Homo sapiens: one gene and its partners. The protein of the gene in region 3 interacts with the protein of the main gene of each other region in a pairwise test. Each region holds a gene or a part of one and is shown on either strand. Other genes may lie near its edges. The genes, in order: CCT8, PACSIN1, SNX12 and REEP6.

What was found.
Region 1: the proteins of SNX12 (region 3) and CCT8 interact in binary tests that used the Homo sapiens proteins (3 or more experiments, as listed by UniProt).
Region 2: the proteins of SNX12 (region 3) and PACSIN1 interact in binary tests that used the Homo sapiens proteins (3 or more experiments, as listed by UniProt).
Region 4: the proteins of SNX12 (region 3) and REEP6 interact in binary tests that used the Homo sapiens proteins (3 or more experiments, as listed by UniProt).

The regions. Positions count from the first base shown.
Region 1 is NC_000021.9:29,055,854-29,064,531, reverse strand, and holds the end of CCT8 (T-complex protein 1 subunit theta), read left to right. Parts: intron 1-1,001; coding exon 1,002-1,180; intron 1,181-1,975; coding exon 1,976-2,042; intron 2,043-2,116; coding exon 2,117-2,204; intron 2,205-2,288; coding exon 2,289-2,404; intron 2,405-2,964; coding exon 2,965-3,036; intron 3,037-3,114; coding exon 3,115-3,279; intron 3,280-3,871; coding exon 3,872-3,991; intron 3,992-7,979; coding exon 7,980-8,057; 3' UTR 8,058-8,206; downstream 8,207-8,678. UniProt on the Homo sapiens protein: Component of the chaperonin-containing T-complex (TRiC), a molecular chaperone complex that assists the folding of actin, tubulin and other proteins upon ATP hydrolysis.
Region 2 is NC_000006.12:34,525,076-34,532,075, forward strand, and holds part of PACSIN1 (protein kinase C and casein kinase substrate in neurons protein 1), read left to right. Parts: intron 1-1,167; 5' UTR 1,168-1,230; coding exon 1,231-1,293; intron 1,294-2,256; coding exon 2,257-2,413; intron 2,414-3,566; coding exon 3,567-3,802; intron 3,803-4,321; coding exon 4,322-4,477; intron 4,478-4,590; coding exon 4,591-4,766; intron 4,767-5,167; coding exon 5,168-5,288; intron 5,289-5,384; coding exon 5,385-5,512; intron 5,513-6,524; coding exon 6,525-6,712; intron 6,713-7,000. UniProt on the Homo sapiens protein: Plays a role in the reorganization of the microtubule cytoskeleton via its interaction with MAPT; this decreases microtubule stability and inhibits MAPT-induced microtubule polymerization.
Region 3 is NC_000023.11:71,058,747-71,067,012, forward strand, and holds the end of SNX12 (sorting nexin-12), read right to left. Parts: exon of another isoform or gene 8,260-8,266; intron 5,966-8,259; exon of another isoform or gene 5,842-5,965; coding exon of another isoform or gene 5,839-5,841; intron 4,204-5,838; coding exon 4,108-4,203; intron 3,222-4,107; coding exon 3,097-3,221; intron 2,373-3,096; coding exon 2,270-2,372; 3' UTR 501-2,269; downstream 1-500. UniProt on the Homo sapiens protein: May be involved in several stages of intracellular trafficking.
Region 4 is NC_000019.10:1,493,270-1,499,194, forward strand, and holds the end of REEP6 (receptor expression-enhancing protein 6), read left to right. Parts: intron 1-2,024; coding exon 2,025-2,118; intron 2,119-2,199; coding exon 2,200-2,338; intron 2,339-3,015; coding exon 3,016-3,184; intron 3,185-3,321; coding exon of another isoform or gene 3,322-3,402; intron 3,403-3,904; coding exon 3,905-3,942; 3' UTR 3,943-4,658; downstream 4,659-5,925. UniProt on the Homo sapiens protein: Required for correct function and survival of retinal photoreceptors. Required for retinal development.

The DNA of each region.
Region 1 (8,678 bases), on a different chromosome or scaffold from region 3:
ATTCTTGAAATCCAAGTTGTTGATAGTTTTAAAATTTTGTAGCATGAGGGGGGTCTGGTCATTTGGTCCATATTTTATTTTATTGTATTTTATTCTTTTTTTTTTTTTTTTTTTTTTTTTTTAGAGTCTTGCTTTGTCACCCAGGCTTGAGTCCAGTGGTACAATCTTGGCTCCCTGCAACCTCCGCCTCCTGGGTTCAAGTGATCTCTGGCTAATTTTTGTATTTTTAATAGAGACAAAGTTTCACCATGTTGGCCAGACTGGTCTCCAACTCCTGACTGCAAGTGATCCACCCGCCTTGGCCTCCCAGAGTGCTAGGATTACAGGCATGAGCCACCGCGCCCGGCCTAGTCCACATTTTAGAAAAAGTTTGAGAACCACAATGTTGTATTGGGAACACTAGTTAGCCTTTGTCAAAAGACAAACACCAGGACACCTACCTACCTGACATATTTAAAATAAAAGCACTTCTCGGCCGGGCACGGTATCTCACGCCTGTAATCCCAGCATAGGCCAAGGCAGGCAAATCACGAGGTCAGGAGTTCAAGACCAGCCTGGCCAACATGGTGAAACCCCGTCTCTACTAAAAATGCAAAAATTAGCTGGGCGTGGTGGCGCTTGCCTGTAATCCCAGCTACTTGGGAGGCTGAGGCAGGAGAATCGCTTGAACCAGGGAGTCAGAGGTTGCGGTGAGCCGAGATCCTGCCTGCACTCCAGCATGGTGACAGAGTGAGACTCTGTCTCAAAATAAATAAATAGATAAAAGTACTTTTCCACCTAAGTACTTATCAAAAGCAGATGCATCTGTTTTGACAGGGGGTTCTAGAAGCAAGCTGAGTTTCTATTTCACACATACAGTATTCTGCTGCTTCATAATATATGCACATATATCTTCATATTTTTTTGCCAAACCTTTATTTCTTCAGTCAACTATTATCTAATGACTTTGAACACCAACGTAGTGAAATGATTTTAAAGGGAATGTTTACTTGTTTTGCCAGGGAACAGTGTTGATAAAGACTGCTGAAGAATTGATGAATTTTAGTAAGGGAGAAGAAAACCTCATGGATGCACAAGTCAAAGCTATTGCTGATACTGGTGCAAATGTCGTAGTAACAGGTGGCAAAGTGGCAGACATGGCTCTTCATTATGCAAATAAATATAATATCATGTTAGTGAGGTAAGAAAAAGCCGATTTTTTTTTTTACCTATATCATAAATGGTTTTTTGGTGGTGAAAACACTAAACGAAATAGACCATGAAGACTGTTAATAAAGGGAAAGTAAAGGTACTAGGTCAAATAGCAGAAGGATTTAGTTTGGGGAGGGGTCAGGAAACACCTCTGAGAAAACATAAATTTAAGCTGAGAGCTTGAAGAACCAATTACCAGATAATTGAAGAGGGAAAAGCATTCCAGGCAAAAGGAACAACTTGTCCAAGAGACTAGACACAAGCTTGGTGCATTGCCTATCAGAGTATGGAGTCAGGAAGATCCCTTTTAATCCATGAACACATTTATGGTGCACACTAGACAACTTAACCCATTTCTACCTACCACCATCCCTAGTACCTAATAAAATGTGCAAAATAAATCACTCTTGTTCACAGAACATTGATTGCACAAAGTAAAGCAAAAATTTTCTATATGCTGTTGAGTTTTGTAAGGGTTTCTCTGGTGTTTTAGAACTATAAACCACTGACATCCTAAAGTGACTTCCATTCTCCCAATTCTAGAACAATGCCATACAACACAGGCTTAAGATGTGGTACTATTGGCCAGCTGGACTCACTCAGAGAGTCAGGAATCAGCTTCCTGGCCTTAGTGTTCATTGCAATCCAGACATGTTCTGAGTTAAAATCCATTGTCAAAGGAATGTGACATGGGGGCTGGTATACAGGTTCCTCTTTAATTTGAACTTTATATGCTATCTGAAATTGATTAAAACTTTTATTAAGGTCTTTGTGTTTTTTAAAGGCTAAACTCAAAATGGGATCTCCGAAGACTTTGTAAAACTGTTGGTGCTACAGCTCTTCCTAGATTGGTATGTATTTTGGAAAACACTAAAAGATAGTTGAACAAGATGGAATTTTTATTACAACAGTCACTTTCTTACAGACACCTCCTGTCCTTGAAGAAATGGGACACTGTGACAGTGTTTACCTCTCAGAAGTTGGAGATACTCAGGTGGTGGTTTTTAAGCATGGTATGTAGGAATGGTAAAACATGTTTAAGTGTAGGGCTTTAGCTTCTTGTATTTAATCACCAAATATATTTAATTTTTTGATAGAAAAGGAAGATGGCGCCATTTCTACCATAGTACTTCGAGGCTCTACAGACAATCTGATGGATGACATAGAAAGGGCAGTAGACGATGGTGTTAATACTTTCAAAGTTCTTACAAGGGTCAGTATCAGCAATATTCTTAGTAGTTTGTAAGGTCTGAGTAATTTGTATGGTCTTAAAAGTACAGTTTGCAGACTCTTGCACATCATGAGAACTTCAGAATGAGTGGTTTATATGAAATGAAGCACCTGTTTTTGTTTTTACCTAAGACTTAAGTGTCCATTGTTAGTGAATATGATAGTTTCCAAAAAAGATTGTACAGAGGAGTTAACAGCAAAACAGAGCTTTAAAAAAAATTGTTTATCGTTGTTTTCCATTGTAATGTACTGTTAGTTGCTAAAGCAGTTCTTAGTGCTATATCTGTGGATATGCAAAAATGATACGGTACTATTCCCATTCTTCACTTTGGTCCTTTTCATACACCAGACACTGTGCACTAAGAAAATTTGCCCCACCCACTCATTTTTACCAAATTTGTAATATGTATTTGAGTAACAATGACTGATAAAAACTCCTGTTTGGTGGGGTACTGGAATGTGAAAAGATTAGAAAACTGCAAACTGATTTTTAGTGAATTTGTTTTGTGTTCATTTTTTTTTTGGTGGGGGCGCTACATACAGGATAAACGTCTTGTACCCGGAGGTGGAGCAACAGAAATTGAATTAGCCAAACAGATCACATCATATGGAGAGGTACAGCTTTTTCTGTATAAATTGACTTTCTTTCCATTGCTTGAATAAAAGACAGTAATTAACGCATTTTTGTTTTAGACATGTCCTGGACTTGAACAGTATGCTATTAAGAAGTTTGCTGAGGCATTTGAAGCTATTCCCCGCGCACTGGCAGAAAACTCTGGAGTTAAGGCCAATGAAGTAATCTCTAAACTTTATGCAGTACATCAAGAAGGAAATAAAAACGTTGGATTAGATATTGAGGTATTTGAAAAAACACTGAACTTAAATTGCTTTATTTGGGGAATGCACAACCTAAAAATAGTATGAGTTTAAAAGAAATATCAATGAGAAACAGTGTTCTGATTTGGGAGCAGATTATTTTCTTAGTTTTTACATAGGTTGTCTGATGGAGGAACGTTTCATTTTCCTTCTGTTTTATTGATAGTCTTTTGTTCTGTAGTGTGTAGTCAGCCCAGTTCTGTATCCATTGATTCAACCAACCACAGATTGAAAATATTTGGAAAAACTAAAGACATTTAAAAATACACTATAACAACTATTTACACTATGTTATATAATTAATCTGGAGACGATTTAAAGTATATGAGAGGATGTGCATAGATTATATCCAAACACCATGCCATTTTATGTAAGGGATTTGAGCATCCACAGATTTTGGCATCCTTGGAGGTGCTAGAACCAATCCTCACATACTAAAGGATGACTCTATAAGGTAGGACTGTGCTTGGTTACTTTCCAGTACTATTTAAGGAGCTATGTGAGGCTTTTTGTGGGTGTAAACATTTTCACATAAAAGGATTTTAAATGAAAGGATGAAAATTGTGTTTGACAGGCTGAAGTCCCTGCTGTAAAGGACATGCTGGAAGCTGGTATTCTAGATACTTACCTGGGAAAATATTGGGCTATCAAACTCGCTACTAATGCTGCAGTCACTGTACTTAGAGTGGATCAGGTGAGCAAAGTGAAATTTTGATCTTTAAAAATACTCATTTGCATACTGTTTAATAGTATATTTTCCCAGAACTAGAACATAGCATAGTTCTAATTCAAAGGATTCTTAGTCCTCACCTATTAGAGATACTATGTGCCCCCCTCCAATTTTTTTCTTCTATTATAAATTGTATTGAATATATAACTTTCAAACCTTTTAGCCTTAGAACCCATTTGTACAAATAATTTAGAGAGTAAATTTAATATATAATACTAACATGGAATTTGGAAGGACCATAAAGCTCTCAAGCAGACATTGCAGACCACCAGCTTGAAGGAAAATGGAGTCTCTAGCTGTCTGCAGATAAGAGGACTGGGCATTGAAAATTTTTTCTGCTATGACAAATTACAGCTTGAGATACTAAAAGATGTTAAAGGTGTTTAAAATCATATTTCTACCCTTTTTTTTTTTTTTTTGAAGAATTGTGGTAGACTGTTCTATATATAGAAGTAAACCTGAAATCATAATTATTTTTCCAAAAGGTATTTTCTGGCAAACTTAATTAAATACATTTCCCCACAAAATTCTAGAAGTAATTAATAAGCAATGACTATTTATAAGTACTTAATAGAAAATTTTAATTTGCTAGAGGGACAGTATACATCCATTAGGTAAAAGTCATATGTCATATTAAAGGTGGAGTAAGTCCTAAGTAGAAATCAGTGGAAAGACATTTCAGCTTTTAAGTACAGTAAGGACCAGTTGGTGGTAATTATAACAAATTTATTGGAAGAACTATGATAGCAAGAGATGACCAAAAATGGAACTGGATATTTAGTTTCAAGTCATTGAAAATAAGCAGAAACTAGATGTTTATGTACCAGATTAACGGGTTTCTCTGTCAGCTTATTAGGTGATTTTCAATGGAAGAATATGTTTGAGTTCTTAAATAGAAACCTAAGAAAATACTTATTCTAGAAATTAGAATGTGGCTAAGAATAAAAGGGGAAACCAAAAATAGCAGGGACGGAAGAAGCTAAGTAGACTGCAGCATAAGGAACGCAGAAATTCCAACTGTGTTAGGAACTTTGAATGTCAATTATTCAAGCAAGACAATAACCACCACCCTTGGTCACAAAGGCAGTTTGAATTTTGGCTTTAAACTAGGAAGTCTGCTTTATCTTATGGTAGGGGAAGTTGTTGGTTGATCTGTTCCCCCAGTCTTTGCACTCTATGTGAAGTATGTATCTAAAGAACCCATCCAACTGTATTAACCAGTTTGTGTATATAGTGTATAGTATAATGAACCTAAATTTGTATAGTATATATTCTAGAAAAGGAATTGCACATCAAGCTTTAAGCATTGGATAGTGTAGTACGGACTGGATTAATCTTTGTTGGAATGTCTATTTCACTAGTTCTCAAAGTATGGTCCCAAAATAGTATCAACATCACCTGAGAACTTGTTAGAATGACAGTTCTCAGCCAGGTATGGTGGCTCACACCTGTAGTCCCAGCTACGCAGGAGGCTGAGGTGGGAGGATCACTTGAGCCCAGGAGTTGAAGGCTGCAGTGAGCTGTGATCACATCATGGCACTCCAGCCTGGTTGACAGAGTGACACTCCATCTTTTAAAAAACTAAAAATAAATAAGAAATACAGATTCTTGGAGGCCAGGCGCGGTGGCTCACGCCTGTAATCCCAGCACTTTGGGAGGCCAAGGCAGGAGGATCACGAGGTCAGGAGGTTGAGACCATCCTGGCTAACATGGTGAAATCCCGTCTCTACTAAAAAAAACAAAAAATTAGCTGGGCGTGGTGGCAGATGCCTGTAGTCCCAGCTACTCGGGAGGCTGAGGCAGGAGCATGGCATGAACCTGGGAGGTGGAGCCTGCAGTGAGTAGAGATGGCACCACTGTACTCCAGCCTGGGCGACAGAGCAAGACTCCATCTCAAAAAAAAAAAAAAAAGAAGAAATACAGATTCTCAGATGTCACTCCAGACCCACCAATATCAGAAATGCTGGAAGAGGCCTAGCAGTCTGTTTTAATGAGCACTTTTGATTATGGTGCCCACTAAAGTTTGGGAACTACTTGTTTTAGTGTTTGTTTCTTTTTTTTCTTTGAGATGGAGTCTTGCTCTGTCACCAGGCTGGAGTGCAGTGGTGTGATCTCAGCTTACTGCAACCGCCACCTCCCAGGTTCAAGCAATTCTGCTGCATCAGCCTCCCGAGTAGCTGGGACTACAGGCGCATGCCACCATGCCCACCTAATTTTTTTTTGTATTTTTAGTAGAGACGGGGTTTCACCATGTTGGCCAGGATGGTCTCGATCTCTTGACCTCGTGATCTGTCCGCCTTGGCCTCCCAAAGTGCTGGGATTACAGGCATGAGCCACCACACCCAGCTTTTAGTTACTTTTTAAAATCAATGTGCACTTAGGTTCTAAAATTATGCTTAATGCCTTTAATTCAGTCTGAAATTACTCTCAATTGGTAACATGTTATTCTGAGAATTTCAGGTTTAGGTATCTTTTTTGTTGTTGTTGTGATAAGGTCTTACTCTATCACCCAGGCTGGAGGACAGTGGCACAATCATAATCAGCTCACCACAGCCTCAAAATCCTGAGTTCCAGTGATTCTTCTGCCTTAACATCCCGAATAGCTGGGACTGTAGGCAGGTGCTGTCATGGTTGGCTGAGATATATATCATATATATCTGATATGTATATATCACACATATCATATGTATATATCATACATATGTATATATCATACATATCTCATATATATCATATATATCTCATATCATACATATACATGATATATATATCATACATATATGTATGATATATATTATATATGATATATGTATGATATATGTATCGTATATATGATACATATATCATATATATATTATCAAATGTTATATATATATTTTATATATATATATATTTTTAGTTTTTGTAGACTAGGTCTCACTTTGTTGCCCAGGCTGGTCTCAAACTCCTGGCCTCAAACCTTGGCCTCCCAAAGTGCTAGGATTACAGGCATGAGCCACTGCCCAGTTCAGGTTTGCAGATGGTAATTAAGATGTTTTCCAGCCGAGCGCAGTGGCTCACACCTATAATCCCAACACTTTGGGAGGCTGAGGCGGGTGGATCATGCAGGAGTTTGAGACCAGCCTGGCCAACGTGGTGAAACCCCGTCTCTACTAAAAGTAAAAACTTAGCCGGGCATGGTGATGGGCACCTGTAATCCCAGTTACTCAGGAGGCTGAGGCAGGAGAATTGCTTGAACCCAGGAGGCAGAGGTTGCATTGAGCCAAGATCGCGCCACTGCACTCTCTAGCCTGGGCAACAGAGCAAGACTCCGTCTCAAAAAGAAAAAAAAAAAAAAAGCTAAAACCTATTTATTTTAGATAAAGTAAGGTGAGGTTTGTGGCGCTTTTTTTTTTAAGTTGGGAACTTAGATTTTTGTTTATGAAAATTCCTGGCTGCTTGAATGATTCTCATTTACAGGTTTTAGAAAATTTCAGTGTTAAACTTTGTATATACTTATGTATCAACTACTTTAGATTATAATGGCAAAGCTGGCAGGTGGGCCTAAAGCTCCTAAACCACAAGGAAATTGGGACAGAGATGGTTGGCAAGACACATCTCATATATAAATAGCAAATCAGGTGCCAAACTGACCGACTTACACCAGTGATGCATGCACATATTTTCACTTTCAGCTTTTTGAGTTATTGAAGTGCATGTCTTGGAATGTTCACTAATCTCTGTGGATTTTATTGCGGTTATCCATAAAAGCAGTAAACTTTCTCATGCGCTGAAAGTTTACAATTGAATTTCTAACAAGGGAGCTAGCAAACTCTGTGCTGTAGTGTTTTATATGCAGTACATAATTATACCAAGAAGACTGCTTAATCTTAAATCATGCTAATAGAAGCATTCTTTTCATTCTAAAGGTTAAGTTGATAAGCATACTCTTGTGTGATTCTTTTTTATGCAGATCATCATGGCAAAACCAGCTGGTGGGCCCAAGCCTCCAAGTGGGAAGAAAGACTGGGATGATGACCAAAATGATTGAAATTGGCTTAATTTTTACTGTAGGTGAAGGCTGTATTTGTAGTAGTACTCAAGAATCACCTGATGTTTTCTTATTCTCCTTAAATTAAGAGTTATTTTGTGTTTGTATTCTTGGCTGGATGTTATAATAAACATATTGTTACTGTCAAAGCCTTATTGTCTAATGACCACGGTTATTGGCTCTAAATGACTTGTGTTCCTCTCAACCTTGTTAATCACATTAGCTGTGGGACTTAAGGCAAGTCACTTATGTAAGTAGAGGCCTATTACCCATGTATATCTGGCCTACTGCCTGTTTGTGTAAATAAGTTATTGGAACACAGCCATGCTCATACCATTACATATTGTCTGCAGTTGCTTTCTAACAAGGGAGTGGCAGAGTTAAGTATCTTTATTTTTGACAGAGACCAAATGGGCCTACAAAGCCTAAAATATTTACTATCTGGCCCTCTACAGGAAAGTGCTGCCAACACCTGGACTAGATTTCCAGTGTTTTTGTCACAGCTCTGGAATTCCTGACTCAAGGTGACTTGTTTCAATAGCAATTAATAATTTGTTGAAGACACTCGACTTAGCAAAGTACAAAAAAAATGCTTAGAAAATAGATAAACTGACATACAAA
Region 2 (7,000 bases), on a different chromosome or scaffold from region 3:
TTTATAAGTGAAAAGTGCCAAGTTAAGAAAAGAAAAATTCAGACTCATTTCTTTGTCCCTTGATGAAATCCAGCCGTCCTCCCTCTCACCCACCCGCACTGTGCGTGAGTTTATGGGAAAGTCTGTCTGTGGTTCTTCTAAAAGGGAGGGAACAAAATATGTTTAGATGCCTGAGGGGTGCAAGAGGCAATACTGGGTTATTACTGGGAAAGAGCCCCAGGCCCTGGACAGATGGGGAGCCCTAGGGGGAGGGACATCCTCCACCAACCATTCTTACGTGTTATTGCCCCTGCCCTGAGCCTGAGAGCCAACTGCTGGACCCCCAGGTTGGGCTGAATCTTACAGAGGCCAGCCTTCCCTGAGCATCCACACTGTCAGGGTTCACAGTCCTGGGACTGCAGTGCAGAAGCAGGGAGGTGTCCCCTGGTGCCGGGATCCAGCTAGAGGCTGGCAGCTTGTATCAGGGCCAGGCGCAGCCTGGACTCTGCTGCCTCTTTGAAAACCAGGCCCTTGGCCCTCTGAGTCCTGGCTCCTGACTACTGAGCCATTCTTGCCTGGGGTAACAGTGAGGCCTGGCTGGGGGAAGGGAGGAGGGGAGTACCCACCTCGGCCCTGGGGCAGCGCACGGCCTAGATTGGATAACCCTGATGCCTGCCGACAGATCCAGGGCAGACACAGCCACCCCAGACGCTCCCATAGATCTCGGTGGTGTGACCTGTGGGCCAGGACACCACACATTTGGGACTCTCAGGAGACTTGTAAGAAGCTAATGGGGGCTGCTGAGGTTGGGAGCAAGGGCAGACAGAAGGGCATTTACAGGGTCCCGGGGCTCAGATAACTGAGGAGGCGCTGAGCCTGGGCTCCAACAGTCCAGGAGAGAGAGCCAGCTCTGGGGGCTGGGGCTGGCTTCTGAACGGAGGTGCTCATACTGGATAGAGGATGGATTCCAGGGAGGGGGAAGGAGGAGGGATGGGGAGTTGGGCATGAGGGTGCTACAGGGCGACTCTTGGGGTTACCTAAGTCTGGTGAGTTAGTCTCTGGACAGGAAGATGGCATCCTAATGCAAGCCTCCCTGGGTCCCATCGGTTTGGGGACCCAGGCCTGGAATGGGGCAAAGGGTGGAAGGCCCTTCCCTCATCTCCAGGGATCTCTCTCCTGCCCTCCCAGTGCATGAGCAGCCGAGCCTGCTAACCGCAGCTCCGCACTTGTCCATCCCCCTGCGGCTACACCATGTCCAGCTCCTACGATGAGGCCTCACTGGCGCCAGAGGAGACCACCGACAGCTTCTGGGAGGTGAGGCTCTCATGATCCCCAGGTTCGGGGACCAGACAGCCTGGCTGTTTGGAGGCCAGGCTCCCTTATCACTCACCCCATGACCTCAGGCCCCACTCCGCAGTCCCCCAGGCCCCTCCAAAGCCCTGGGTGTCCAACAGGCAGCGGTAGCCATGAAGTGGCTAAGAGCACTGCCCACTGAGCCAGGAGCTCCTCTCTCCCCACAGCTGCCCCCAGAGAGAGCCTGTGGCATTTCACAATGTGGGAACAGGCCCTTTGTGACTCTGTGGCACTTCCATCAGGCAGGTACAGCACAGCCTTTCTCAGCTGTTCCTATTTCCCTCGCTCGCCCCCCATCCTGAGGTGGGCAGGGGTGGAGCGCCGGACACAGAGAGAGGGAGTGAGCTCCCAGAGCCCCACGGGGCCGCAGAGCGGGAGGCACAGCCAGAAGCCAGCATTTTCAGAACCTTCGGAAATATTTGAGACCTGGAGAAAAAAAATTGCTATTGGCTCCGGAAACCCAAGACGAAAACTGCCAAACCTAAATTAATAAGCGTTTAATGAGATGTCGACAAAACATAATATTATGTCAAGAAGCTGCAGCTCAACTCAACGCTTATATGACTCTATATAAATATAATAGATTTAACTCGCAAAAACAAAATGAATAATTCATTCCAGCCCAAGTCCAAATTCTAAAAATCCTTCTGCATTTTGTGGCAGCAAGGAAATCATGTTTAAATTGGGGTGAGGGTGCGTGTAGACGGCGGGGCCTGAGGCAGGGTGCTGGAGCCTCCGAAAGTTAGTTTCCCTGGGGTGTTGCCGCTGCGCCGCGGGGCGGGGGGCGGGGGCGGGGGCGGGGACGGCGAGGCCGTAAGCGGGGAGGCGGGGCGGAAGACAGTGGGCGTGGCCGTGCTGGATGCGGCGGGCGGGGCTGGGGACGCTGGGAACCCGCGGGAGTGGTGCTCGCTGCTTGGCCGCCAGGTGGGGAACTACAAGCGGACCGTGAAGCGCATCGATGACGGCCACCGTCTATGCAACGACCTGATGAACTGCGTGCAGGAGCGCGCCAAGATCGAGAAGGCGTACGGGCAGCAGCTCACCGACTGGGCCAAGCGTTGGCGCCAGCTCATCGAGAAAGGTGCTCCCCCAGGCTCACATCGTGCGCGCCCCCAGGCCGTCACGAGCCCCCTAGGTCTGGGTCCTAGGAGCCCCGGCTACTTGCATGCACCATGCCCTCCATCTACCAGACACAGGACATTTTCAGGCGCTGTTCCCTCCTAGATCAAACCAGGCCTACCTGTTCATCTCTATTTTGTACAATTTTAGGTTGAATTAAAAAAAAAAAAACACTTTTTATCTTGAAATAATTCAAACTTTGTGAAAGTTGCAACAGTAGCACAGAGAATTCCTACATACCCTTCCCCCAGGCTCACTGGCCCCACGTTTTCTCACTGACTGTTTATTGATATGCATATTTTCTGAACCATTTGAGAGTAAGCTGGAGCCATTATCCCTGTTTACCCCTAAATTCTTCATGTATCTCCTAAGAACAAGAGCATTTGCTTAAGTAACCAGAGTTCAGCTATCAAATTTGGGACATGTAATACGACCCATACGCACATTTACCATGGCAATTGCGCTTGCTAGTCCAGGATCTAGTGCAGTCGCACATTGCCTCTATGCATTGTGTCTTCAGGTTCCTTTAATCTAGAACAGTTTGAAGTTGCGGTTTACATATACTTGTTCATGTTATTCTCTTGCAGTATACTCTAAACCCCATGAGAGCAGGGGCTGGGCCTGCACCACCTAACACAGTGCCCTGCACAGAGCTGGTGCCAGTACACAAACAACAAGTCAGTGTGGAATGACTGGTCCCCAGTGGCCTCTTGGCATCTGTCACAAGCTTCAGCTAACATTCCTGGAGCACCTACTGTGTGCTTGGCGCTGTGCTGGGCTTGTCAGAGCTCACAGGGTCCAGGCTGCCCCCCTCCGACCCCATTCCATGGGGCTCACATGCTGACAAGAGAGATAAGGAGGAGGGAGGTATGGCCGCAGATACTGTGAGAAGAATGCAGCGAGGGCTGCTGGCCATGGCAGGAGGGCAGAGCAGTCAGGGAAGGCTTCCTGGAGGTGGTGGCTGATGTGGGCCCTAGAGGATGGGGCCACGTAGAGCAGAGGAGGGCATTTCTGTTGCTATGAGAGGAAAGGGAAAGCCTCAGAGAAGGGAGATGTGAGGGGGGGCCTCTGGGCAGGGGCAATGAGGTTCTTGTGACCTATTGCCATTCCCTCAGGCCCACAGTATGGCAGCCTGGAGCGGGCCTGGGGTGCCATAATGACAGAGGCAGACAAGGTGAGCGAGCTGCACCAGGAGGTGAAGAACAATCTGCTGAATGAGGACCTGGAGAAGGTGAAGAACTGGCAGAAGGACGCCTATCACAAGCAGATCATGGGTGGCTTCAAGGAGACGAAGGAGGCTGAAGATGGCTTCCGCAAGGCCCAGAAGCCTTGGGCCAAGAAGATGAAGGAGGTGCTCAGTGGGTGCTGCCACGGGCGGGGTGGGGTGGGCCCGTCTGATCAGAGGGTGCTGATCCCAGGGAGGGCATCTATGGATGGGTGGGCTGGGCACTGCCCTCTGGGATTGTGCCCACAGGGGAGCAGCACTGCCTTCCAGGAAAAAATATTCACAGATGGGTAGGCAGTGCCCATTGGGTAAGGAGACCCATGGGCAAAAAGGGGCACTGTCCCCAGGAAAGATACCAGCAGGGGCAGAAGAGCACATTGGCCCCTGGGTCCCCAGATGGGGCGGGCACTGCACTGCCTGACAGGAGGGTATCTGCAGGGGAGCAGGCAGTGCCAAGCAGAGACGCAGCCACAAATGGAGGAGCGCTGCTCCCGAACACCTGGAGCCAGGGCCTGCATCCCTTCTGGCTCTTAAGAGTGTGGGCTCACAGGTCCCAGGGAGTGGGCAGGGGAGGAGTTAATGGGTGACCATGTTTGCTGCTGGTCACAAATGAAAACCCTACTCCCTATTCCCCCCTCCCCACAGCTGGAGGCAGCCAAGAAGGCCTACCATTTGGCTTGCAAAGAGGAAAAGCTGGCCATGACACGGGAGATGAACAGCAAGACGGAGCAATCGGTCACACCTGAGCAGCAAAAGAAGCTGCAGGACAAAGTGGACAAGTGCAAGCAGGATGTGCAGAAGGTGCTGGCGGGCAGGGATGGCAGTAGGGGGTCTGGGGGCCCCTTGCAGAGGGTGGTGGCTGGGAGCTGCAGGCCTGGCTAGGTGTCACCCTCTCTCCACTCTGGTGCCCACAGACACAGGAGAAGTATGAGAAAGTGCTGGAAGATGTGGGCAAGACCACACCCCAGTACATGGAGAACATGGAGCAGGTGTTTGAGCAATGCCAGCAATTTGAGGAAAAGCGGCTGGTCTTCCTCAAGGAGGTGCTGCTGGACATCAAACGGCACCTCAACCTGGCTGAGAACAGCAGGTACCTGGGCATGGCAGGCACCGAGGGCACAGGCACAGCCAGCAGATGGTGTGACTGGCATGCAGGGCATCCCAGCCCTCCATCACAGTGACGGGAAGGGGAGGCAGAGCTGCAGGGGTCAAGAAGGATGAGGCTTCAAACACAGGGGCTGTTGAGTGCAAGCTGACGCACACTGGGTACTCTAGAAACACATGCTGGATGATGGGTGAATGGCTAAGGTGGGAGGGAAAAGGAGTCCACCGAGCATGCCCGGAGCTTATTCTTGCAAAGCCCACATGATTCCTGGCTGGGCAGCATGCCCAGCACCCTGCTTCCCTGAGTGGACTCTGGCCTCTCACCAAGGTTGAGGAGGGGCCATGTTGAATCTGTGCCCTCCACCTCCCCCATCTCCCTGAGCACAGCTACATCCATGTGTACCGTGAGCTGGAGCAGGCCATCCGGGGGGCTGATGCCCAGGAAGACCTCAGATGGTTCCGCAGCACCAGTGGCCCCGGCATGCCCATGAACTGGCCCCAGTTTGAGGTGAGGATATGTGGGGATGGGAAGGGGAGCCTGAAGAGGCTGAAAGGTGCCTCAGGGCATAGTCCCCCAGCCTGACTGCTCCACTGGCCCCACCAGGAGTGGAACCCAGACCTTCCTCACACCACCACCAAGAAGGAGAAACAGCCTAAGAAGGCAGAGGGAGTGGCGCTGACCAATGCCACTGGGGCGGTAGAGTCCACATCCCAGGCTGGGGACCGCGGCAGGTGAGTGCCTCCTGTGGAGCTTCCTGGGGCCAAGAGGGACCCACACTCTGGGGCAGCTGAGTTTTGCTTCAGAAGACAAGAAATGGTCTAGATCATAGCAACTATGTCTCCTCTCTAAAAGATAGTGGTAGTTCATCACTCTAAAGCAGCCGTCCCCAATCTTTTTGGGACCAGGGACCAGTTTTGTGGAAGACAATTTTTCCACGGATGGGAGCGGGGTGGTTTTCGGATGAAACTGTTCCACCTCAGATCATCAGGCGTTAGATTCTCCTAAGGAACGTGCAACCTGGATCCCTCGCATGCGCAGTTCACAATAGGGGGGTTGCGCTCCTATGAGAATCTAACGCCGCGGCTGATCTAACAGGAGGTGCAGCTCAGGCGATAATGCTCCCTCGCCTGTCACTCACCTCCTGCTGTGCTGCCTGGTTCCTAACAGGCCACGGACTGTCTGCAGCCCCAGGGTTGGGGACCCCGGTCCAGATCACAGGAACCAAGCCTCCTCTCTAAAAGATAGTGGTAGCATATCCTTCTAGAGCACCTACTGTGTGTGGCACGGTTCTATGCACTTTCCATATGTTAACTCATTCATGCTCAAGTGCGTAAATATTACCATTTTACAGATGGAGAAACTGAAACCCAGACAGGTTAAGTGACTTGCCCAAGATCACATTGCTAGTTAGTAAACCTCAGAGCCAGATATGTTGCCCAGGAGGTCTGACTCCAGGATCCTTGCTCTTAAACATTAGGTGGTACTCCTCCTCCCGGATGAAGGCTCAGATGTGCCCTGGGGTCCCCTTCAATGCCCTCTCCCTCGAGGGCTGAATAATAACGCAAATGGTCCTGCATTTAAACATCGGTTTAAAGAGCTCATGAGGGTCACCCCTCCTATGTGGCCAATCCTTGCTCTAGCCTTGGTAGAATTCGGGATCAGGGCTCTGATTAGGAGGAGCGGTTAGCCCTCGGGATGCGGTACGGGGAGACATTGAAGCTGGCTCCTTCCTCCGCGTCTCAGTGTTAGCAGCTACGACAGAGGCCAGCCCTACGCCACCGAGTGGTCAGACGACGAGAGTGGGAACCCCTTTGGGGGCAGTGAGACCAACGGGGGCGCCAACCCCTTTGAGGACGACTCCAAGGGAGTGCGCGTGCGGGCACTCTACGACTATGACGGCCAGGAGCAGGACGAGCTCAGCTTTAAGGCCGGTAGGACGGCTGGGCGGGGCAGTGCCTGAGAGAGGCTTGGGCCTGGATTGGGTGTGTGGTGGTGCAGGGGCGGTGCCTGAGAGAGAAGCTTGGGTCTGGATTGGGTGTGTGGTGGTGCAGGGGCGGTGCCTGAGAGAGAAGCTTGGGTCTGGATTGGGTGTGTGGTGGGGCAGGGGTGGTGCCTGAAAGAGAGGCTTGGGCCTGCATTGGGTGTGTGGTGGGGTAGAGGCAGGATCTGAAGACGGGTTGCGAGGATTTGCAGGGAACTAAATGGGGCGTGGCCTGGGT
Region 3 (8,266 bases):
TCTGCCTGTGTCAAATTTATTTGGGAAAAAAAACAGTGTCAGTTGAGATAAAAAGCCTATAGAAGAAATGTTTGTTGGTGTTGTGTGGGTGTGTCAGAGGATGAACACATGCATGTGTGTTTATGTACATGTATTACATATGCAGACACACACATACACACATACACACACACATATATAATAAATATATTCTGCCCAAATTAGCACAAACCCACAAGCTTAAAAACCAAATCTGCTAAATCTGACTCAAACAACAGGTACTGAGCCTACAGCTACTTCCTGCAAGCAGATGCATTACCTCTGTGACAAAGTCAGTTGTGAGTTGCAAAAAGGATAGGTAAATATCATTAAGATAAGTTAAGATTCTGCTTTCTAAAAAAATTTAAATGCAAAACATTACCTCAGGACACTGGCCACACTGTATGATTTCTGCATAATACCCAGCATATCCTAGACACTAAAGAATACTAAATTTACAACTTAAGCAGGAAAACAGAGGCTTGCTTCACAGTGGTTTAATATGAACAGAGTTGAATATGACATTGTCTGACAGAAGAATGAACAGTTTGCTGAATAAAAGCCCCGAGTCAGGATATATATACACAGCAGAAATGGGGCCTCAGACTCTCAGCACTTGTGCACAATGAAAGAGGAAATCGTTTTTAAAAAATGTCTATAACAGAGGATACAAATCAAAAAGGCAGCAACAACAACATTGGCGAGGTGGGAAAGGGAGCAGAGCCTCTCATTAGGGGCTGCTTAGCCCCTGGCGCAGGCTCAGCAGCTGGAGAGCTGTCTCAGGGAACTTCAACATTTAGATGGGTTCCAAATCCTATGTCAAAATACAATCCTAATCTCTCTGATCAGGGTCAGTCAGAATCAGCAATCCTTTTCCACAGTGCCCTGCATAGAAAACTCCAATCTTTCCATGATAGGGAGTCTAAGCAAAGAGCCCCCACCTCTCACCTGGCACCAAAGTTAACTTACTCTCACCCCACCACTTGGGACAGACGTTGGGCCCCAGCAAACAAACCACCCCCTCCAAGACAGAAACCAGGATAGTTGCCAGCCTCAAGAAGCTGCTTCAAATGTTAAGATTTAGGAAATCCATACCAAGCTGCTATCCATAGTTCAACTTCTGGGGAAAATGCTGGAGTTGCATGAGAAACAAGTGCAGGCAGTTCAATAACCCTGTGACCACGCTGGGGAGGGCAGCAAAAACTCTTGCCCCTGAGCCCCATTCAACAACTCAAAGTGCTTAGGAGAAGTCAGAGACTGTGTGGTTGGTTTGTGTGCTTCTGCCCTGTGGCAGCACTAAATGGGATGGGGGAAAGGAGAATGGAAGGAAGACAGTGTTGATGCCCTTCCCTACCGCGGGTAAGAGCCTAGAAGATAATCCACTCCCACCCTTCAGGGAGTTACCTGGCAGTGGTGAGTTGCCCCCACCCCTCAAGCCACCAAACCTGCAAAGCTAACCCATAAAGTAGCAAGGGCTTAGGGAGGGAGAACTGCTGGCCCATACTGACTCACCAGCTGATGAGCAAAAATAGGCAGCTAGAGTGGGAGCCACAAAGGGAGAGGGGCTAGGCAATAGGAGCTCCCCTACTGCCCTATGGCTTTCTTCTGACTCTGAAGCAGCCATAATGATGGGCCCAGAAAACCCACACACCCTGCTCCATACAACAGACTGCTTGGACTCTAGGAGGATTACTGCCATGGAAAGCAACAAGGGAGAGAGAAAGCAACAAAAGAAACTGTTAAGAAAACTGGGAGCAGGCCTGAAGAAAACAAGGAAAGCTTCTGAGTCTCTACCACCTTTCCAAAAAGGAAAAAATACATGCAGTTAGGAAAGGCAGGGTTTTTCCCTGCTCAGTGTTCTTGGTTAAACCTAAGAGTAAGAAAAATCCCCTGAACTTGCAGCATCAGTATGTATCCAAGTGCCTCACCAGCACAAGCGCCCCCCTCCCCCCAGGTTAGCCTTCTGGCATGGGTAAATGCCCAAGAAATTGCCTTCCAGTCTAATCCCCCCACCCACCCACCCCAACCCCAAGCAAAGGGCATCTGCCTGTGGGTTCCCACCTCTCCTCAGAGAAGAGGATCCTAGCAGAGTGCCCACATGGTGTAGTCAGGTACCAGGGAGCACAATGCCAGACAGTCTATCAGGCCAGGAGATGGGCAGCCAACTTCAGATCAAAGACAGAGAGAGGCTTAGTGTAAAAACCAATGTCATTTCAGCAGGAAAGTAGAGGGCAGGTGGTGAGAGGGGCTCCTACTGGCGCACCTTCCCCGGGACGTAGTTCCTGTCAATTGCCTCCTCTTGCAGGAACATGTGTAGGCAGCGTTCATTCTGAGCCAGTGGGTGCCCAGCAATTCTATAAAGAAACCAGGATGGTTATCAGTAGTATTCAGAATCAGAGAGAATTAGCAGAGGGATGGGGATGTGGACAGGGGAAGAAGGGCAAGGTCAGCCCTGAGGTTCAAGCCAGTAGAGGACAGCAGTAGGGTACCACCTCAACCCTAATATTGTAAAGGGGACGGGGGATAGAGGGGCAAGACAGGGAAATCCCTAGATATAACCAACATGCAGTGCTTTCTCAGGCCCTGACACACAGGATCAGAATCCTACTCAAAGGAATGGAGTTTTACTGTCCAGTCAGCCCACCACACAATTGGCACCACATCATGGTACCCATTATAAAAGGTGAGCTGGGTGCGGTGGCTCACGCCTGTAATCCCAACACTTTGGGAGGCCAAGGCAGGTGGATCACTTAAGGTCAGGAGTTCGAGACCAGTCTGGCCAACATGGTGAAACCCCATCGCTACTAAAAACATGAAAATTAGCTGGGCATGGTGGCCGGCGCCTGTAATCCCTGTTACTCAGGAGGCTGAGGCAGGAGAATCACTTGAACCCAGGAGACGGAGGTTGCAGTGAGCCGAGATCACACCATTGCACTCCAGCCTAGGTGACAGAGTGAGACTCTGTCTCAAATAAATAAATAAGTAAATAAAAATAAAATAAAAGGTGAGGTAAACAAAACATATAGAAAGACTACGATGGCAAAAGTAGCAAGTGGAGCCCCCAGGAACTTGGCTTACTTGTTAATAAACTGCTCGAGGCCCTGCCTCCTTTCTTCGATGAAAGACTCCTCAAAGATCCCTTCATCTCCTCGGAAAGGGAGCTGCCGCTTCAAGGCTTTCCCAGGCAGTGGTGGTACTACAATCTGCAGGCACACACAAAATTCCAGCCACATGGGAGAGAGACAGAGTGGGAATGAGATGGTAAAGCACCGTGTACCTCATTTCTTATTAGGCATAGGGTCCATCCTGTCCCACAGCCAGCAACTTGCAAGAACTAAGACCATAAGAACAGTCAGGATGGCTCAGGTCAAAAATTAATCCGTTTCTGTGGGAAGACAGGTTTACCACCTCAAAAGAAGGAAATAAACTCCAAATAATCCTCACTTTCCTTAACAAGCCACTACCATTCAAGAATTTAGCTAGGATTTTCCTGACACTAGACTTTCCATTTTTAGCACCTACAGGAATTAAGTTGTACAACTTTACTAGCGACTAAGTGAAGTAATACTTTAAAAAAAAAACTTGTCCTGAACTTACCACTTTCTTTTTTTTTTTTTTTTTTTTTTGAGACAGAGTCTTGCTCTGTCATCCAGGCTGGAGTGCAGTGGCACGATCTCAGCTAACTGCAACCTCTGCCTCCCAGGTTCAAGCAATTCCCATGCCTCAGCCTCCCAAGTAGCTGGGATTACAGGCATCCACCACCACACCTGGCTGATTCTTGTATTTTTAGTACAGGCGGGGTTTCACCATGTTGGCCAGGCTGGTCTTGAACTCCTGACATCAGGTGATCCGCCCGCCTCAGCCTCCCAAAGTGCTGGGATTACAGGCGTGAGCCACTGTGCCCAGCCAGAACTTACCACTTTCAAGTTTCAAAAGGTATCCCCCCGATCTAAAATACTGAGATTTGATGGATAAGAATGTGTTCACCCTCTTCATTCCCTTCAAGACTTTATAGACTGTGGTTGTATGCCCACTCAGCCTATGCAGAGCTCCTCCTCCAAAGATGCCACACAGAGAACAAAGCCATACCTTGCTATCTCTCTCCAGCTCATTTTTCAGCCACTCAAAGTCACTGTAGCGCCGCCGTACGCAGGACTCCTTTAGCTTGAAGATAGGTAGGTTTGTCTACATGGAAGGAAAAATTAAAGAAGAAAGATGGTAATGTTCAGCCTGTGGTAGCCACCTGTCTGAGTAACTTGGACAGGTCCCAATGAAGAAATAGCTCCTATGGATCATGCTCCTATAACCCCTTCAAATCACCACCAGGTAAAAACCAACCCTTACCACATCCAACCTTATCATAGCTGATGATCAGAAGTCCCTTGCTGCTTTGAATTTATCCTACAAGTAGACTTGCAGTAGTATGTAAATATGTACATATAAGAGTTTTCACCAGGCTTGGTGGCTCACGCCTGTAATCCCAGCACTTTTGGAGGCCAAGGCAGGCAGATCACTTGAGGTCAAGAGTTCAAGACCAGCCTGGCCAACATGGTGAAACCCTGTCTCTACTAAAAATACAAAAATTAGCCAGGTGTGGCGGCACACACTTGTAATCTCAGCAACTTGTGAGGCTGAGGCAAAAGGATCACTTGAATCCAGGAGGCGGAGGTTGCAGTGAGCCAAGATCACACCACTGCACTCCATCCTGAGAGACAGAGTGAGATTCTGTCTCAAAAAAAAAAAAAAGAGTTTCACTGCATTTTATTATTTATAATAATAATAAATGTCTATGAATAGACAATAGGTTACAATGAATTATGGTATACCTGTATAGTAGAATATTAAATAACTATGAAAAGAATGTGAAAGCCAGGTGCAGTGGCTCACACCTATAATCCCAGCACTTTGGGATGCCGAGGCAAGGGATCACCTGAGCCCAGGAGTTTGAGAGCAGCCTGGGCAACCATAGCAAGATTCCATCTCTACAAAAAGTAAAAAAGCCAGGTGTAGTGGCAGTGCTCGCTTGTGGTCCCAGCTACTCAGGAGGATCACCTGAGCCCAGGAGGTCAAGGCTATGGTGAACTGTGATTATGCTACTGTAATCTGGCACAGAGACTCTGTCTCTCGAAATAAAAATGAAAGATCTCTATGTGCCAGTATGGAAAGATATTAAGTAGTAAAATCAAGGTATAGAACAGTATATATATATAGCTTGCCTCTATTTGTGTTTTAAAAAGGGATGTATATGTATATATTTATACTGATTAATAAAGTATTTATGAAAATATACTGGTAATGGTGATTGACTTTCGAGAGTAAGAGAAGACAACTGGAATGGGTGGAATAGTCACATTTTTCATTGTACAATTTGAATTTATCATGTGTACATATTACATTTTCCTTTAAAAAGTGAATTTAAATTCCCTGTAAAGAGATAAACACATCCAAGGTATGCCTACCTCTGCTCTTCCTGTCCAAATCCTCTCCATTCTACCAGTGCTCACTCAACTCTCACTTCAAACAAAAAAATTTTCTGACAACAACAACTGGATTTATTGGTTTTCCTCCTCTCTGAACTCTTCTGACAGTTATACTTTAGCATTGCCTGATACACTATTGTTTTATGCATCATGTTTGCCTTGTCTAACTAACTAATCTCATTAAGATCAGAAACTATGACTACTTCTGCATCTTCTAAAATGCAGAATATGCAAGTTACTCAATAAATGCTCAATTGATTAATAGAGACTCTATGTGTCTGTTTATCCTCTCCTCATCTAGAAAATGCATAAGAAATCACCATTACAAAAGTTGGCTTACCATAGCTTGCTCCCTGATATAAATCAGCTCATTCCCACATTTTAAACACTGAGAAGATTCCCAAGGCTCTAGTGGCAACACGAATCCCCTGACAGAAAACCCTGATCTTCACTCCTGTCTACAAGTTCTAAATAGAAATGGCCAACCACATGTATTAATACTGACCATATTTACTGCCAGTCAATTCAGGTGAGAGGATGAATAAAATAAACTAGTTATCTCCTTTCTCCACAACTGCCTCTTGGCAGGAAAAGAGCAACTCGAAACTCCATTAGAGCTTCACACAGAACCCACTACATCATGCTTTGTACTCCTTGACACTGGAAATTGTCTTTTCAGGATCCAGTTCTCAAATAGGCCATCAAAAGCCAAATAACTGGCCAATTGTACATTAAACTCCATCCAGGATCGTCAAGGTCCAAGGAATGTCAATAGGTTGAAATGGAGTGAGATTCATATAAAGTAAGATTACTAAACCATTATTTATTTAAAAGAATAAATAAGGGCTGGATGCGGTGGCTCACGCCTGTAATCCCAGCACTTTGGGAGGCGAGGCAGGCAGATCACTTGAGGTCAGGAGTTCGAGACCAGCCTGGCCAACATGGTGAAACCCTGTCTCTACTAAAAACACAAAAATTAGCCAGGTGCTTGTAATCCCAACTACTCAGGAAGGTGAGGCAGGAGAATCGCTTGAACCCAGGAGGCGGAGGCTGCAGTGAGCCGAGATCATGCCACTGCCCTCCAGCCTGGGTGACAGAGCAAGACTTTGTCTCAAAAAAAAAAAAAAAAAAAGAATAAACAAGGCCAGGCGTGGTGGCTCACACCTGTAATCCCAGCACTTTGGGAGACTGAGGTGGATGGATCACTTGAGGTCAGGAGTTCGAGACCAGCCTGGCCAACATGGCGAAACCCCATCTCTACTAAAAATACAAAAATTAGGCCGGGCATGGTGGCTAACACCTATAATCCCAGCACTTTGGGAGGCCGAGGCAAGCGGATCACTTGAGGTCAGGAGTTCGAGACCAGCCTGGCCAACATGGCGAAACCTGTCTCTACTAAAAATACAAAAATTAGCCAGGCGTGGTGGTACATGCCTGTAATCCCAGCTACTTGGGAGGCTGAGGCAGAAGAATCACTTGAACCCGGGAGGCAGAGGTTGCAGTGAGCCGAGATCATGCCACTGCACTCCAGCCTGGGCTACAAGAGCAAAACTCTATCTCAAAAAAAAAAAAAAAAATTAGCCAGGTGTGGTGGCACCATGCCTTATGCCTGTAGTCCCAGCTACTCCAGAGGCTGAGGCAGGAGAATCGCCTGAACCTGGGAGGCATAGGTTGCAGTGAGCTGAGATCATGCCACTGCACTCCAGCCTGGGTGACAGAGCGAGACTCTGTCTCGAAAAAAAAAAAAATTGTGGAAGGGACCGATTAAAAGTTTAGTGAGTAGAAAAATTTTGCATGCTAAAGTTTTGCTACTAAGTGTTGTCAAGGAGACAGAAGTGTAGCAGAAAGAATATGGAGTCAGACATATTTGTGTTCAAATTCCAGCCCTGTCAGTTATAGTTACGTGTACTTGGGCAAGTTACTTAAACTGCATTCCTCCTCAGTTTCCCATGTGTAAAACGAAGTTCTGTAAGGATTAACACAAATTAAAACCTAGTTCAGTGCCTGGTACACAGTAGGCACTAGATGAACAGTCCCTGTTGCTATTAGAATACCTGGAGTAGGGCCAGGCGTGGTGGCTCACGCCTCTAATCCCAGCCCTTTGGGAGGCCGAGGCAGGAGGATCACTTGCGGTCAGCAGTTCAAGACCAGCCTGGCCAACATGGCGAAACCCCGTCTCTATTAAAAATACAAAAATTAGCCAGGCATGGTGGCATGTGCCTGTAATCCCAGCTACTCGGGAGGATGAGGCAGGAGAATTGCTTGAACCCAGGAGGCGGAGGTTGCAGCGAGCCGAGATTGCACCATTGCACGGCAGCCTGGGCAATAGAACGAGACTCCATCTCTTAAAAAAAAAAAAAAAAAAAAAAGAATACCCTGAGTAAAGAGCGATTTCATTCAGAATCCCTAAGACTCTTGGGTAATGCATTGAATGTCTCCAAAACCCCACAGCAGACAGCCCTTATGCTGTACTAGTCATGCCCAAGCTCCCTCAGGTAACTAAGTTCTCCAGCACTGACAATTTCCTGCTTTTATCATATTCTGAAGGACCTAAATTCCATTCTCCCCCAAAGACATGATTTCACATAGTTCTTATATAGACAAGTGTTTCTCATGTTTTGCTATTCACTTTTCTTTCTTCAGTTTGGACTTTGCCAAACTTGGAATCTGGAAATCATAATTTCTCAATAAGATTTCAAAGCCCAAGTAGGAGACCACAATTTCTCATTCAATTCACTCCTTCAACAATGAAAGCACATACACTCTTT
Region 4 (5,925 bases), on a different chromosome or scaffold from region 3:
CCCATCTCCCACCTCCTTTAAATTGACAAATCCCACACCCCTGGGTAACATACGAAGAAACTCAGAGGGGACAGTGACTGGGAGGCCACTCCTGGGACCAGCTGGGGGACTCCTCCTACCCCTGACCTTGGGTGCTTTTGGATAAAGACTAAAGCAGGTGGGAGGGGCTGGGGGGACTTGGGCCTCTGCCCTTTGGTCCAGAAGTGGCCTCTATCTCACTCTGCAGATAGCAGCCCCAGGGGAGGAGGAAGAAGGCTGTCCAAGCTCTCTGGAGCACATAGGTTCCCTGTGTGACCTTGGGCAACACCCACCCACCCCCAGTTTTGGCTGTTGAATAATTCAGGAAAAGCACAAAACCTGGCACACAATAGGCGCTTAATAAATGCAGCTGTCGTAGTCATTCTTTTCAGAGCCAGGTTCAGGATTGGGGCTGAGCTGGACACACACACACACACACACACACGTTTTTCTCTGAACACCCTCCTTGCTGGGACTGTGTTATAGTTGCCTGAAGGCACTTAATAAATGTGCAGAAAGGCTGATGGCGGTGGCTCACGCCTGTAATCCCAGCAGTTTGGGAGGCCAAGGCGGGCGGATCACCTGAGGTCAGGAGTTTGAGACCAGCCTGGCCAACATGGTGAAACCCCGTCTCTACTAAAAATACAAAAATCAGCTGGGCATGGTGGTACGCTCAGCTACTCAGGAGGTTGAGGCAGGAGAATCACTTGAGCCTGGGAGGCGAGCTTGTAGTGACCTGAGATTGCGCCACTGCACTCCAGCCTGGGTGACAGAGCAAGACTCCATCTCGAAAATAAATAGAAATAAACGTGCAGAAAGGCGTTCTCTCTGTTAACTTGTAACCATAGGAGGCAGGGGCCATTACTACTCCCACTTACCAAGGGGGAAACTGAGGCTCCATGCAGCCACAGCCTCACTCAGTGCCGGCTGGTGAGTGCACACCCGACCAAAGGGCTCTCCTCCACCCAGGGGATCGAGATGCTGGGGTTTGCTGCCTCCAAGACAGGAGGTTCTCAAAGGGGGTAGCCCTGCCCCCCACCCCGCCCCAGGGGACACTGGGTGATGTCTGGAGATACCTGTAGTCGTCATGACTTGGGGGCTGATGGCATGGAGTGGGCAGAGGCCAGGGACACTGCTCAGCACCCTGCAGTGTCCAGGACAGCCACTTCCCCCTCTCCACCGAAAACAACCAAGAATGACCCGGCCCTGAACATCAGCAGTGCCAAGGCAGAGAAACCCTGCGCTAAGATAACAGATGAAACAGTTGCCTTTCTCAGCTCTAGAATCAAGTCTTCATGACAGCCTGGCCTCCCTTGCAGGTTTCTGCCATCCCTTATATTGAAACACTGGCCTGTTTTCCCAGTGCCTCCCAAAGGGCCTGGAATGAGATGGCTATCGTTGCAGATTACACTTTTTTTTTTTTGAGACGGAGCCTCACCCAGGCTGGAGTGCAACGGCGCGATCTTGGCTCACTGCAAGCTCCGCCTCCTGGGTTTACGCCATTCTCCTGCCTCAGCCTCCCCAGCAGCTGGGACTACAGGCACACACCGCCATGCCTGGCTAATCTTTTGTATTTTTAGTAGAGATGGGGTTTCACCGTGTTAGCCAGGATGGTCTCCATCTCCTGACCTCGTGATCCACCTGCCTCGGCCTCCCAAAGTGCTGGGGTTACAGGTGTGAGCCACCGCGCCCGGCTGCAAACACTTCACTGGGCAGCTATTCCGCACCCACCCCCACTGCCCAGCGTCGAGCTCCTGCCTGCCCTTGGGGAGCTCTCAACCCCGGTGGGGGACATGGACACGTTGACCAGTTACAGGCACAAGGCTCAGGGCCTAGAGGCACGATGGGGGATGTACAGGCACATCAGGGGCAGTGGACATATCCTGGAGGCGGCTCCTGGGAGGAGGTGACGGTTGCAGTCTTCGTCGACTGAAAGGCGGCCTGGGTACCGTCGTGGGGGCTCAGCGGGTCCCCAGCCCTGGCACACCACCGCCTCTCTCCGGCAGGAGCCGTCACTCTGCTAAGCCTGTATCTGCTGTTCGGCTACGGAGCGTCTCTGCTGTGCAATCTCATCGGATTTGTGTACCCCGCATATGCCTCGTGAGTGCACGGCTGGCTGCCCACGCGGGGGGTTCTGGGGGCTCCCTGGCAGCCCCTGACCCTGCTGCACCCTCCCTGCAGAATCAAAGCTATCGAGAGCCCAAGCAAGGACGACGACACTGTGTGGCTCACCTACTGGGTGGTGTACGCCCTGTTTGGGCTGGCCGAGTTCTTCAGCGATCTACTCCTGTCCTGGTTCCCTTTCTACTACGTGGGCAAGGTGGGCCCTGCCAGGGCGGGCACAGCCGTGGAGCGCATGGGGCTTGGGGATTCCTGGGAGGCGCTGGGGCCAGAAAGTCCGGAGGATACCAGGAGATGGGGGATGTGAGGGGAAGACTCAGTCCCTTCCCTGGGGAAACGAGCCCTGTCCGGGGGCTGATGGTGGAGGGCCCACCCTGAAGGGTGTCTGATGGTGGAGACCCAAGCCTGCTCCAATAGGATGTCCGATGGTGGAGGGCTCACCCTACAGGATGTCTGATGGTGGAGGGCCCACCCTGAAGGGTGTCTGATGGTGGAGACCCAAGCCTGCTCAAATAGGATGTCTGATGGTGGAGGGCTCACTTAAAGGGTGTCTGATGGTGGAGACCCAGGCTTATTCCAATAATATGTCTGATGGCACAGGGCCCACCCCTAAAGTGTGTCTGACGGTGGAGACCCAGGCCTGTCCCAGTAGGACGTCTGATGGTGGAGGGCTCACTCTAGAGGGTATCTGATGGCGAAAACCCAGGCCCATCCCAATAGGACGTCTGATGGTGGCGGGCCCACCCTAAAGGGTGTCTGATGGTGGAGACCCAGTGCCTGTCCAGGATGGGCATCTGGTGGAGTGGTGCAGCCCCTCTCCCCACCAGGGGCACAGAGCTGGGTGGGCCCGCGTGTAACTCCTGCCCCGCCCTGCAGTGCGCCTTCCTGTTGTTCTGCATGGCTCCCAGGCCCTGGAACGGGGCTCTCATGCTGTATCAGCGCGTCGTGCGTCCGCTGTTCCTAAGGCACCACGGGGCCGTAGACAGAATCATGAACGACCTCAGCGGGCGAGCCCTGGACGCGGCGGCCGGAATAACCAGGAACGGTGGGTGCTCGCAGGCGCCTGGCTGCCTCAGGCCATCTCCCGGGTCTGGACCTGTCTCTCTCCACCTTGCCTCCCTTTCTGACTTTGGCCGCCCCCTCTCACTGTCCGCCTCTCTCTCTCACGCTTCCGGGAACCAGTCTTGCAGGTCCTGGCCCGTAGCCGGGCAGGCATCACCCCGGTGGCTGTGGCCGGGCCCTCCACTCCCCTGGAAGCTGACCGTACGTAACCGCTGTGGGGAGATAGGAGCTGTGTGTGTGTGTGTGTGCGCGCGCGCGCGCGTGTGTTTGAGCGTATGTTTGCTGTGTGCACATGTATTATTGTGTGTGCATGTTTTGTCATGTGCAAGAGGGTGCGTGTGCATGGGCTCAAGTGTATGTTTGGTGTGTGAGTGAGCAAGGGAGTGAGCATGTTTTCTCACGTGTGCATATGTGTGTGTGTGCCCACGTGTGCATGTGAGTATATGTGTGTGCGTGTGACCATGTGTGCACGTGTGAGTGCGTGCGTGTGCATGACTGCACATGCGTGTGCTCTGTGTGCACCCATCTGTGCATGGGTGACCATGAAAGCCTCTGTGTGGTTGACACCATCTCTGCTGAGGGTGGCTGCCCGGCCCCTCGACTTGTCATGCTCATAGCCAGTAGCCTCAGTCCCGCCTGCGAGCAGCTCCGGGGAGCCCAGGCCTGCCTCACGGCCCTCCCCCACCCGCCCCTCTCTCTGCAGTCAAGCCAAGCCAGACCCCGCAGCCGAAGGACAAGTGAAGCAGCCCCCTGAGCCTCACAAGGACCTCCTGGCTGGTGAGGAGGGGGCCGCGCCAGGCTCCCAGGCCTCCACAGAGTCTTCAGCGCATCCCCCAACAGCAGCCCCTGCCAGTCCCTCGGGTCCAGGCAAGGCCCTGGGGGTCTCCTTAAATGCCACCTCGGGCAAGTCCCAGTCCCAGTCCTCGGCCACCCCCAGCTCTGGATCCCAGGGCCAGCTGCCCTCTGGCTCTGGCTGTGGCTCCCGCCTGTCCGGCAGGGCCCAGGGCCAGCGTCGGGCACAGGGCAGCTCCCACTGGTCTCGGCAACACACCCAGCCGCCTGGTACTTCCTCCAGCCCCTCCCAGTCAGCCCTCCCGTCCTCGGGGCCCCTGCAGCCACCCAACGTCACCTCCAGCCCGGTCTCACCCATGGTCCAGTCTCCCAGCAGCAGCAACATCCCCACGCAGCCCCCCAGCAAGTCCTCTGGCAAGCCGGAGGACGCAGCCCCCAAGACCAGCGGACAGCGCCAGAAGGAATCGTCGAAACAGCCTGCCAGCAGCGCCTCAGTGCCCGAGCTGGTCCCCTGCCATTCCGGGACCTCTCTGGAGTACACTTCGGAGTCCACCACCGAGATCACCTGCAGCTGGCCACACCACAGGCCCCCGTGCCTGCAGCACTACTGGTGCCTGAAACACCTGGCCTGCTAGGAGGCTCCAATAAAGCTAACCCGGACCAGACCTGTGTGCCACGTGTGCGGGGGGCCCAGGGGAGGGGCTGCGAGGGCACCGTCCCATTTCATCAGGCATGAATCCCGGCTGTGCCGACCAGCCCCATAATATAGATGAGGAGACTGAGGCCCAGAGGCTAATTCACCCACTCAAGGTCCACCCACATGGCCAGGATGGGTGCAAGCCCCGGAAAAGCTTGTCCTTAATCACAGTGCTTTCTCTCCTCCCTCCCGAACTAGTTGTCTGGCCTATTTGCATTAGCCTGCTTCTCTTAAAACTCCCCCATTTGGGTGCGGTGGCTCACACCTGTAATCCCAGCACTTTGGGAGGCTGAGGCAGGTGGATCACCTGAGGTCAGGGGTTTAAAACCAGCCTGGGCAAAATGGTGAAGCCCCATCTCTACTAAAAATACAAAAATTAGCCAGGCATGGTGGTACATGCCTGTAATCCCAGCTACCTGGGAGGATGAGGCATGAGAATTGCTTGAACCCAGGAGGCAGAAGTTGCAGTCAGCTGAGATTGCGCCACTGCACTCCAGCCTGGGCAACAAATGAAACTCCATCTCCAAAAAAAAAAAAAAAAAAAAAAGTGAGTAGGATAAACCACAAACCCTGATATATTTTCCCAAGGGGCCATAACTCAGTTATTCTCAACCCAGAACAGTTTTGTCCCCCGGCCTTTGGGTCTTGTCTGGAGACACTTTTTTTTTTTTTTATTGATCATTCTTGGGTGTTTCTCACAGAGGGGGATTTGGCAGGGTCATAGGACAATAGTGGAGGGAGGGTCAGCAGATAAACAAGTGAACAAAGGTCTCTGGCTTTCCTAGGCAGAGGACCCTGCGGCCTTCCGCAGTGTTTGTGTCCCTGGGTACTTGAGATTAGGGAGTGGTGATGACTCTTAACGAGCATGCTGCCTTCAAGCATCTGTTTAACAAAGCACATCTTGCACCACCCTTAATCCATTTAACCCTGAGTGGACACAGCACATGTTTCAGAGAGCACAGGGTTGGGGGTAGGGTCACTGATCAACAGGATCACAAGGCAGAAGAATTTTTCTTAGTACAGAACAAAATGAAAAGTCTCCCGTGTCTACCTCTTTCTACACAGACATGGCAACCATCCGATTTCTCAATCCTTTCCGCGCCTTTCCCCCCTTTCTATTCCACAAAACCGCCACTGTCATCATGGCCCGTTCTCAATGAGCTGTTGGGTACACCTCCCAGACGGGGTGGTGGCTGGGCAGAGGGGCTCCTCACTTCCCAGTAGGGGCGGCCGGG